2 separate regions of the Homo sapiens genome follow, and region 2 is linked to region 1. Evidence: fine-mapped expression QTL. A gene starts in region 1. The other region holds a variant in brackets. All regions are shown on one strand. Distances are between the middles of the regions. Region 1 holds the start of CROCC (ciliary rootlet coiled-coil, rootletin). Region 2 holds the start of TRG-CCC4-1 (tRNA-Gly (CCC) 4-1).

The links.
Region 2: its variant is fine-mapped to the expression of CROCC in spleen (GTEx, PIP 0.96).

The regions. Positions count from the first base shown.
Region 1 is chr1:16,919,456-16,924,830 of GRCh38, forward strand. CROCC (ciliary rootlet coiled-coil, rootletin) reads left to right here and starts at 2,476. Exons shown (of 37, transcript NM_014675.5): 1 at 2,476-2,623; 2 at 3,208-3,343; 3 at 4,870-5,024. The coding sequence starts at 2,564. RefSeq lists enhancers at 1,118-1,890, 1,891-2,662, 2,663-3,434, 3,435-4,206, 4,390-5,000.
Region 2 is chr1:16,675,482-16,680,856 of GRCh38, forward strand. TRG-CCC4-1 (tRNA-Gly (CCC) 4-1) reads right to left here and starts at 2,860; the gene lies at 2,790-2,860. RefSeq lists an enhancer at 1,369-1,418 and a silencer at 1,449-1,598. The variant C/T (reference allele first, on the strand shown) is at 2,821.

The DNA.
Region 1 (5,375 bases):
GGGCACCCAGGGACGGAGGGCTGAGGCATAGCAGTGTAGCAGGACAAGCCGCAGGCAAAACTCTTCAGTCACCAGGTTAAAGAAGGAAGGAACTTTATTCGGCTGGGAACTTCAGGAGACTTGTGTCTTAAAAGCCGAGCTCCTCGAGTGAGCAATTCCTGTCCTTTTTTAGGGCTTACAACTCTAAGGGCAGGAGCCCAGACACGTGATGCTAATGACAATAGGAACAGTGGCCCCCATTGGCTAATAGCTCACCACCTGCCAGGTGTGGTAGGTACTATCAGTCGCATTTTTTTGTTGTTTTTGGTAGGACAGAGTCTCGCTATGTTGCCCAGGCTGGTCTCAAACTCCTGGGCTCAAGCGATTCTCCCATTTTGGCCTCCCAAAGTGCTGGGATTATAGACCTGAATCACCACACTCGGTCTAGTCTCATTTTATTTTATTTTATTTTTTTGAGACAGACTCTTGCCCTGTCACCCAGGCTGGAGTGCTGTGGCACAATCTCGGCTCACTGCAACCTCCTCCTCCTGGGTTCAAGTGATTCCCCTGCCTCAGCCTCCTGAGTAGCTAGGATTATATGCACATGCCACCACGCCCCAGCTAATTTTTTTTATATTTATTTATTTATTTATTTATATTTTTGAGACGGAGTCTTACTGTGTCGCCAGGCTGGAGTGCAGTGGCATGATCTCGCCTCACTGCAACCTCTGCCTCCCAGGTTCAAGCGATTCTCCTGACTCAGCCTCCCAGGTAGCTGGGACTACAGGTGTGCACCACCATGCCTAGCTAATTTTTGTATTTTTAATAGAGACGGGGTTTCACCATGTAGGCCAGGATGGTCTTAATCTCTTGACCTCCTGATCCGCCTGCCTCAGCATCCCAAAGTGCTGGGATTACAGGCCAATTCTTGTATTTTTAGTAGAGATGGGGTTTCACTATGTTGGCCAGGCTGGTCTCAAACTCCTGACCTCAAGTGATCTGCCCGCCTCAGCCTCCCAAAGTGCTGGAATTAGAGGCTTGAGCCACTGCACCTGGCCTGGTTTAGTCTCCTTTTAGAGATGAGAAAACTGAGGCTCAGGGAGGTAACCTGTTCAAGGTCTTACTGTCTTGAACACCATAGTTGCAAGTGACAGAGCTGAGTCTCACATGCAACCTCAGACCTGATACTGACTCCAGAGCTGTGCGCCTAAGCACTAGAGCACATAGCCTCCTTGCCCCAGGGAAAGAACAATGGGAGGTGGTGGGTGACCTCTGGGTCTCAGGGCCCTGGGATATAGGGACTGTGCCTTTTTTTTTTTTTTTTTTGAGACAAAGTTCCACTCTTGTTGCCCAGGCTGGAGTGCAATGGCGCGATCTTGGCTCACTGCAACCTCTGCCTCCTGAGTTCAATCGATTCTCCTGCCTCAGCCTCCCAAGTAGCTGGGATTACAGGTGTGCACCACCACACCCGGCTAATTTTTGTATTTTTGGTAGAGACGGGGTTTCACCATATTGGTCAGGCTGATCTTGAACTCCTGACCTCAGGTGATCCACCCGCTTTGTCCTCCCAAAATGCCGAGATTACAGGCATGAGTGCCTGCGCCTGGCTGGGACTGTACCTTCTGGATTTTCAAATGAATGAAATGAGTATTTCTTGAGTGTTGGCCACGTGACCCCCCAGCACCATGTCATGTGCTGGGTATGCACACACGATACTGTTTCATCCCCGGACGGCTCCGAGAGATGAGTACCAATATTATCACATCTTACGTAAGAGGACACTGAGTCTCAGAGAGGCAAAGTCAGTGTCCCTGGTGCACCCAGCTAGTGGGGGCTGGGGTGGGTGTGAAGGGGCCAGAAGCTTCCCAATAAGTGCCTGAAGGGCAAGGCTAGGGCATTTGTAGTTCGAGGCTCTACCACTGTGTCTAGGTCAGACCTAGGAATGCCGCAGGTGTTGCATAAATGCTCATCAGTCCAGGCTGGACCGCTCATGCCCAACTAAGTGCCAAGCCTGGCCTGGGTGATCTCACAGCCTGCATTCTTTGCCCTACACCTGTTGTGGGAAAACATACTCCCAGCATGCTGTAAATCCTCTCATTCTTAGCTAACCATGTGACTCCCGTTCTGGGCCAGAAAGATGGTCACAAATACTTAGGACTCTGGCCTTTCCCGCCGCATGGCTACTGACCCCACCCCCTGGGCTTGGAGGGCTCTAGGACCCAGCAACCTGCGCAGGGTGAAGAGTGTGTGAGGTCCTGACCTCCAGGTGTCTCCCCTGTTTCCTCCTCCCATTCCCTCTTCTCTCTCCTCCCTCCTTTTCTCTCCCTTCTCCTCCCCTCTCTTCATCCTTCCTCTTCCTTTGGCTCCCTGCCTCTGCTTCCCTCCTCTCCTGTCCTTTCCCATCCCCTCCCTCCTCAGCCCACATCCTGCTCCTCCCACCGCGGTGGTCACATGGGGGCGCCGCCGGATTTAAGCTTAATCTGCCTGGTGCTCAGCACAGCATCCTGGCTGTGGCGCGTGCTGACTGAGCTAGTCTTGGGGTCCTGGAGAAGGGGGCTGGAGGCATGCCCACAGCCTCCCCCCCATGAGCTTGGGGCTGGCGGGGGCACAGGAGGTGGAGCTGACACTAGAGACGGTTATCCAGGTGGGTCCTGGGGGCTGTGCCCACCCTGTCTGGGGCGGGGCAGCGTGGACTTAACAGGAGTGGTGAGAGGTGTGTGCGTCTTGGGGATCAAGGGGTGGGAGAGGTGTGGTGGTGGTGGGGTATACAGGGGCCCCCCGCTTGCAGTTCCTGGCAAGATGGGGGGCAGAGGTACACACAGGGTGCACCTGCTGTGGCTCCCTCATCCCAGTGCCCTGGGTTGGGAGAAGGGGGTCTCTACTGCCAGATTTTAGGGCTTGGGGGACCTCTGGCATAGCCAGATCCTCATCCATCTAGGGTCGGAACCGGATTGGGGCCCCCAACACTGGACTGCCTCCAGTGGGGTTTGGGAGTTACCCGTAGGGTTTGGTTCTCATCTCTGGCCCTGGGCCTTCTTCCTGGGGCAGTGAGCACACAAGAGGCTCTTTGCATGGGGATTTTTTGGATTCTAACTCCCAGGCTTCACTCCATCTTGAGGGGGCTCCTGGGGACCTGTATCTTGGGCAGTAGGATTCTGTGGCTCTCCCCACGAGGCCAGGGAGCCCCGGGTCCCATGTCCCCTGAAGACCCTCTCGCTTTTCCCACAGACACTGGAGAGCAGCGTCCTGTGCCAGGAGAAAGGCTTGGGCGCGCGGGACCTGGCCCAGGACGCTCAGATCACCAGCCTGCCTGCCCTTATCAGGGAGATTGTCACCCGCAACCTCTCCCAGCCTGAGAGCCCAGGTGCCACCCCCATCCGCTCCCCTCCACAAACACCACCCACATTTTACCTCTTCTCATGTCCCTTTCCTGAGCAGTCACCATGATGATCATGACTGTAACTCACTGTGGGGCAGGCACAGCTTTATGACAGAAGAACCCATTTTACAGATGAGGAAACAGAGGCTCAGGGATGTAATTTGTCCAGACTTATTCCGCATGTGGTGCAACTAGAAGGAAGGGCCGAGCATCTCCTGCGTGCTTGCCTGTAGCCTGCTGCAGAGATGTGAACCCCAAATCCCGTATTCCCACCCGGGGAAGGTGTGAGCTGGCTGAACCCAAGATACAGGAAGAGGGCAGCTCAGCTCAGACCAGGGTTTTGCGGAAGTCTGAGTGGATGGCGCCGTCCATCCGTTTCCCACGTGGGCAGGAAGGCGGATGGTCCCTGCTCCTCTCAGTGGGTGGCGCACACGGTGTAGTTATGTGGCTTGAGGATCTGGGAAAGGCACACTCAGTTGCAGCTGGTGTGCTGGCGTGTGGCGTTTTGGTGCTCTAACCATTGTCTGTGTTCAACTCCCAAGCTACAGACGGGCCCCCTCCTTGGGAGCGCCAGGGATGTTGGCGCCCTGGAGCCCCAGACAGGGAGAGACTCAGAGGGCCCTCACCCTGACACCTGGGGTGTATGTCCAGTTCTCCCAGGGTAGAAGGGGAACCCACAGGAGGTGGACAACCCCGCTTCTCCCGCTGGCCTTTCTTTCCCTCTTCTCTCTTTCTCCTTCTCCTCACAACCTGACCTATGCTATGCTCTCCTGAGCCCTAGCCTTTAAAGTTCCATGAAGCCCTTCTCTTGAGCGAGGCTTTGATGCTTTTCTGGGAGGATCTGGTTACTACTATTCTACCTTTTTTTTTTTTTTTTTTTTTTTTGAGACAGAGTCTCGCTGTGTTGCCCAGGCTGGAGTGCAGTGGCGCAATCTCAGCTCACTGCAACCTCCACCTCCCCGGTTCAAGTGATTCTGCTGTCTCAGCCTCCCAAGTAGCTGGGACTACAGGCATACACCACCATGCCCAGCTAATTTTTGTATTTTTAGTAGAGACAGGGCTTCGCCGTGTTGGCCAGGCTAGTCTCAAACTCCTGACCTCAGGTGATCCTCCTATCTCGACTCCCAAAGTGCTGGGATTACAGGCGTGAGTCCGTGCCCGCCCCACCCATATTACAGATAAGTAAATCTGAGGCCCCGGAGAAGAAGACTAATTGGAAAAGGAGGGAGCAAGAACTCAGGGGTCTCCTGGCTCCTAGACTGAGTGTCTCTCCTGCACCTCCCAAACCTGCTGGGCCACACTTTAGCTGGAGTTGTGTTCACTTTACGTCCAGCTTTGTATCCCCTCCTTGCCTTCCTCCCTGTTCTCAGCTCTGTTTGCAGGCCTGGTGCTGCAGCCATTCCCATCTGGACTCCTCCCAGGGGCCTGGATGGTTTTCTTGCCCTCCCTGTTGGGGGGAGGATGTCCCACTGGACCCAGAAGCCAACCATGTGCCCACTGTCCCTTGCCAGTCCTGCTGCCGGCCACAGAGATGGCATCGCTGCTGTCGCTGCAGGAGGAGAACCAGCTGCTGCAGCAGGAGCTGTCCCGCGTGGAGGACCTGCTGGCCCAGAGCCGTGCCGAGCGCGATGAGCTCGCCATTAAGTACAATGCGGTCAGCGAGAGGGTGGGTGCCGCCCAGGTGGTGGACTAGGCCAGGGTTCCCCTCGTTCAAGGGCAGGGAGGCATCTAGACCAGGCCCACACACGGGGCAAAAGATGGGCCCTGGAGTCAGGTTGGCCTGGGCTTGGATTGAGGCTCTGCCACCTTGAGTGGCGTTGAGCAAATCACTATGCTCTTTAAGCCTGTTTTCTGTAGTGGGGATTGTAATGGGACGTGGAATTGTAGGAATCAAGGAGATAATAGAATAAAGTGCCTGGCACCAGGGGTATTTTGTTCCCATCTGTCCCAGGCCTGTTAGGGGTGTGGGACACGGAGAATGAGATCCCTAAAGATTCCTGCCCCTTGAGTTTCTGGG
Region 2 (5,375 bases), 240 kb before region 1:
TTGAATATGTATATGTGGCCCACCACATCAACATAAATCCCTGTTCCCCCCTCCCCTCCCTGGAAACGTACTTTTCAGGTTTCAGCAGCAAGAGGGTATGCCTCCCTGTCTGTCAGAATGGCCACCTTGCAGGCTGTAACCCTTTATAAAAAATAAAATCTCCCTTCTAAATTTATAAATTGTGTGATTTTTCAGTTGACAGCTTTCAGTCAGACTTTTCACTGACTGGGAAAAGTCATTTGCAATATATTTATTTTAAAAATGACTCCTCAGGATACAAAATTCTTGTGCAAAAATCACAAGCATTCTTATACACCAATAACAGACAAACAGAGAGCCAAATCATTAGTGAACTCCCATTCACAATTGCTTCAAAGAGAATAAAATACCTAGGAATCCAACTTACAAGGGATGTGAAGGACCTCTTCAAGGAGAACTACAAAACACTGCTCAACAAAATAAAAGAGGATACAAACAAATGGAAGAACATTCCACGCTCATGGGTAGGAAGAATCACTATCGTGAAAATGGTCATACTGCCCAAGGTAATTTATAGATTCCCTGCCATCCCCATCAAGCTACCAATGACTTTCTTCACAGAATTGGAAAAAACTACTTTAAAGTTCATATGGAACCAAAAGAGAGCCCGCATCGCCATGTCAATCCTAAGCCAAAAGAACAAAGCTGGAGGCATCACGCTACCTGACTTCAAATGATACTACAAGGCTACAGTAACCAAAACAGCATGGTACTGGTACCAAAACAGAGATATAGACCAATGGAGGAGAACAGAGCCCTCAGAAATAATGCCACACATCTACAACTATCTGATCTTTGACAAACCTGACAAAAACAAGAAATGGGGAAAGGATTCCTTATTTAATAAATGGTGCTGGGAAAACTGGCTAGCCATATGTTGAAAGCTGAAACTGGATCCCTGTTCTCATTGCTTGCACCTGGGAGACACAGGTTGCAGTGAACTGAGATTGAGCCATGGCACTCCAGCCTGGGTGACAGAACGAGACTACATCTCAATAATAATAATAATAGTAATAATTTACTGTTCTCATAAAAATTAGCGGATGGGGAATGGAGGCAAGCCGGTGCAAACCATGACAACTAGTTTAGATTTTATTGTCAACTCATGAAAAACTCGTTCTCATTTTGTGTTTTTAAAAAATTCCACTGATACAGCCGTTTTCTCTACCGAAAAAGACTATAACCGCATTATTTCATCACTGGAAGCTACAGACAGAGGGCCCTTGAGAGGCGGCATCTTCACCTACGGGAATGTTTCCTGCTCAATTGTGAGACAAAGAGCATGTCCAAGTTTTCCTATAGGCCAGGCCGCCCCCTAGTTTCTGCGCTGTGGGCTAAACTCCAGAAGCTGGCGCCCTTCAGGGCCAGAGGTTTCCTGTGCTCTCTGGAGGCTGCTAGGATTAAAGGCAAAGCAAACGACAGGTCTATTAGCCACAGTTGCAGGATAGAAAACACTACTGTGACTCAGATTAGAACAGAGGTTGTGGCAACCACAACTACAAGTATTAACCACTACACGACCACAAAGTCTGCTGACAACCATTGCACTTCTTCTATTTTTTTAATGTAAAAACACTCACACTATTTTATCTGGTTTATTCTAGGACGTCCGCAGATTTTTGTGCTTTTCTGTCTTTCATGTGCTTCTCCCTTTCTCTCCCCATTCTGCTACATAATTTAAAAAAAATCTCTTCTCTCAGGATCCAGCCACTGCCTCTACAACAAGCCTCCTGGGAGGTCTCTTTGTCCCATTGACATCTCTGCCTTCTTTCGCTGCTTTTTTTTTTTTTTTTTTTTTTGACGGAGTCTCGCTCTGTCGCCCAGGTGGAGTGCAGTAGCGCGATCTTGGCTCACTGCAACCTTTGCCTCCTGGGTTCAAGCGATTCTCCTGCCTCAGCGTCCCAAGTATAGCGTCCCAAGAATAGCAGGTGCATGCCACCACATTCGGCTAATTTTTGTATTTTTAGTAGAGATGGGATTTTTCCATGTTAGCCAGGCTGGTCTTGAACTCTTGACCTCAAGCGATCCATCCGCCTTGGCCTCACAAAATGCTGGGATTACAGGCGTGTGCCAACGTGCCCGGCCAAATTTCAGGCCAACACCTGTTGACACACATTGCCAGACACACGGAATCCCTCGCGGAACACCGATGGGCCCACAAAACACGCGGGGGCTGCGGTCGCTGATGATGTGAGCAAATTCGATTCACGGTGTCTGGGGTACAGCCCTGAGGGTTCACTGGCCACCTCTGCGCAAGGACCAGTCTCCGCCGCTCCCCTCATCTCCACGCAGATTCTTGCCCACACACCTCCCCTTTCTTTGGGCCGATGACAACTCTTGGACCTCTGAGGTGACTGTCCTGCCCGCAGCTTCTCTCCTTCCAAGAGTGTCATTTCTTGATCCTCTCCATAGTGGCTCAACGGTAAGCCCAAGGTCCAGCACGCGAATCAGGAAACTGATGGTTCTTTGGGTTTGCAGGGATCCTTCCAGTGAATAAATGAAAGTAACAGGTACCAGTATCAAAACTGCAGTGACTCACCAGAGACACTTCATGCTTGCCAGCTTGCTAAGCTGTTTGAGTCCAACAACTGCATGGGGTCCTGGGTTAGTCTCCTGCCGCTACTTTGGTGAGTGTTGTTGTCACTTTACCTTGTGGTGGCCAAGCCCCTAAATGCACTCTTGGGTTATGCAGTATAATTTTCAGCGTAAAAGACAAGTAAAGAGCCATAGCGAAGTGAAAAACAACCACGTGCAGTGGCCGGGAATTGAACCCGGGTCTCC[C/T]GCATGGGAGGCGAGAATTCTACCACTAAACCACCAACGCCTCTCTGGAACTACCCCCTGGAGGATAACAGAAAAGAGTAACCACAAAGATTTAGAAACTGTTCTAAGCGGTTTTTTCAAGTGTCGACTAAAAGCTAACAAAGACATCCAAACCAAATGTGTTTTTATAGGAAACTTTTATTAGACAACGTTATAAATATCAAAATAGCTCATTTGTCGGATCAAACTCTTAACTCTGAAAAAGGTCTTTCTACCTGCATTACAAACCCCTATAATAAAACATCAGAAATTCATTCATGTTTCTTTTTTCTAATCCTAAATCTTCCATCATCAACCTCAAACTGCTGCCTTAGAGGTTCTGAGAAGGTAACCTAACTGGTAGTTTAGGTAAGTAAAGTTCAAATCCAGGGAGGAAATAAGAAGCAGAAGCAGAATTAGAAGAAAGACGAAATAAAAGGACAGAACCACGGTAGAGATAATGAAGAAACAAAGGTTGGTCCACTAAGTTAGTCTTTTGTCGTTGGTTTTTTTTGGCAAAAGAGTAATGATCGGTCTCGTAATCATTATAATACTATTATTTGTCTGCTTGAAGATGTATAAAGCATTTGAAGGAAATGTGATGTGAAAAGATGAAGAACGCTTGCCGTCAATGTTTCATTGTTTGGGAGAATCCCATTTCCTAAGTTAATATGCTTTGATGTGTTAGCTATGTAAGCAGTAGACTAGTTTAAGGAAATATTGACGGTCAAATATTAACATATTAGTCTTTTGATGAAGTTCAAATATTAGAGAGATTTCTTTCCTCAATTTTCAATGGAGACATTCAACTGAAGAGACAAATCCAGAGTTTTCTCCACATGTTGGGTCTGGGAGTCATTATGACTTTTTCAAAGACAGGAGCTGTGACATGGAATCATGCTTCTTCTCAAGCTGAGAAGCCAAGCTAGGTCCAGGCTGAGTCATAAACTTGAGCCCACCAAGGAAATCATCCTTCACATTGACCTCGCAGAGCTTTGGCTGTTCTCTGTTCTTTGCCCAACACCCAAGACACACACCAGCTCTGGCCAACAAACCTTAACATATGATCTATATCAACCAAAGCTACATTTATTCCCAAATCTCCTTCTAAAATACAAACCTGTACTTTCTACTCTCAACTTCTAAATCTACCAAGGCCTCATATGCATCTGAGTCACAGATGCTAAAACTTAACCGGTTTTCTGAGGATTATTTGAGGAAGGGGTATGCATGCAAATGTATATACATAATTCATGTGATTTAGGAATATGGACTCTATGACTTCCAGATGCAGATTTAGAACCTTTTTAAAAAATATTTTGTTTTTGTTGTCTTGCAAATCAGCCAGATCTGCAACTTACCAGAGTAAAGCCAAACCAAGCGGGACCCTTAGGAAATGCGCTAAGATGTCATCCACTTTCAGTGTCAGCCTGTGAAAATTCAGGCGACAGAAGAGAATAAAGAGAATCTTAAGGAATTTCTGGAACCAAAGCTAATATTAAGCAGGCCTCTTGCTGGCAGACCAGTGGAAATTGTACCTGGTCAACAATCTGTCTAGATTGAGGAGGTCTAAAATGTAGCCACAGGTTCAAATACTTTTCTGTTTGTTTCCCAACCTCGATTAAACTCACAAAATTTAGGGACCAAAAAAACAAACAAACAAACAAAAAAAAAAACAAACCACGACGTTCCCACCCAGTCTCGAATCAGGGACTTTTCTCGTGTGAGGCGAACATGATAACCACTACACCACAGAAACTGCATATGCACCAAAAAAGGCAAAATATCATCATGAAAATCTTAGATCAGCCATTTCTATTATCGTTTCCAAAGTAAGAAATTCAACTGCATTTCGAAATTCGACTGAAAAAAGCCCAATAAGCACCAGCCATCAAGAAGACTATGGCTCCCAATAGGCCCAGGCTTAGCGTTCCGCGCCCACCCCCAACACGAAAACCATGGGGACCCACACCCGGGCTTCGGGGACACATACCCGGGCTTCGGGCTCCCGCATCCTCCCCTGGGTATGCAGTTCCAGAACTAAGCGCCGTGTGCGGGATCCTCCCGGCTGACACTCTTCGGCTCCCAGAAGCTGCAGGAGCCGGCGGGCTTTGAGCCTCCGAGCCCTGGGCGCCCCGTGCCTCTCAGGAGGGTGGACGCCGCCCTTCCAGGGATGCGGACCCCGCCTCGGGGCCTTTTCCCCGGCGCCGGCCGTCGGGGCTCTTGGCTCTTCTCGTCCTCCCAGGAACCGTAGAACCCTCCTTGCCCTCCCTCCCGTAGGCCGAGGGGCGTGAGCTGCGCCTGTTTCCTCACGGACCCTTTGGCCTCAGCGCCTCGATGTCTTGCAATTCTTAGCTCACGGCTCTTCCTCCTATAACAAGGCCCTTCCATGTCATGTCCCCTACTCCCTCTTAGCACCAGAGAGATGTCTCCCCTGCCCCACAGGTCACATTCCATGAGTGGTGAAGTTTCTAGAGTTGTAACCATGGCATCTCCAGCCCTGTGTGTTCCTCTCCATGCTCCCCATTGAGCAGTCT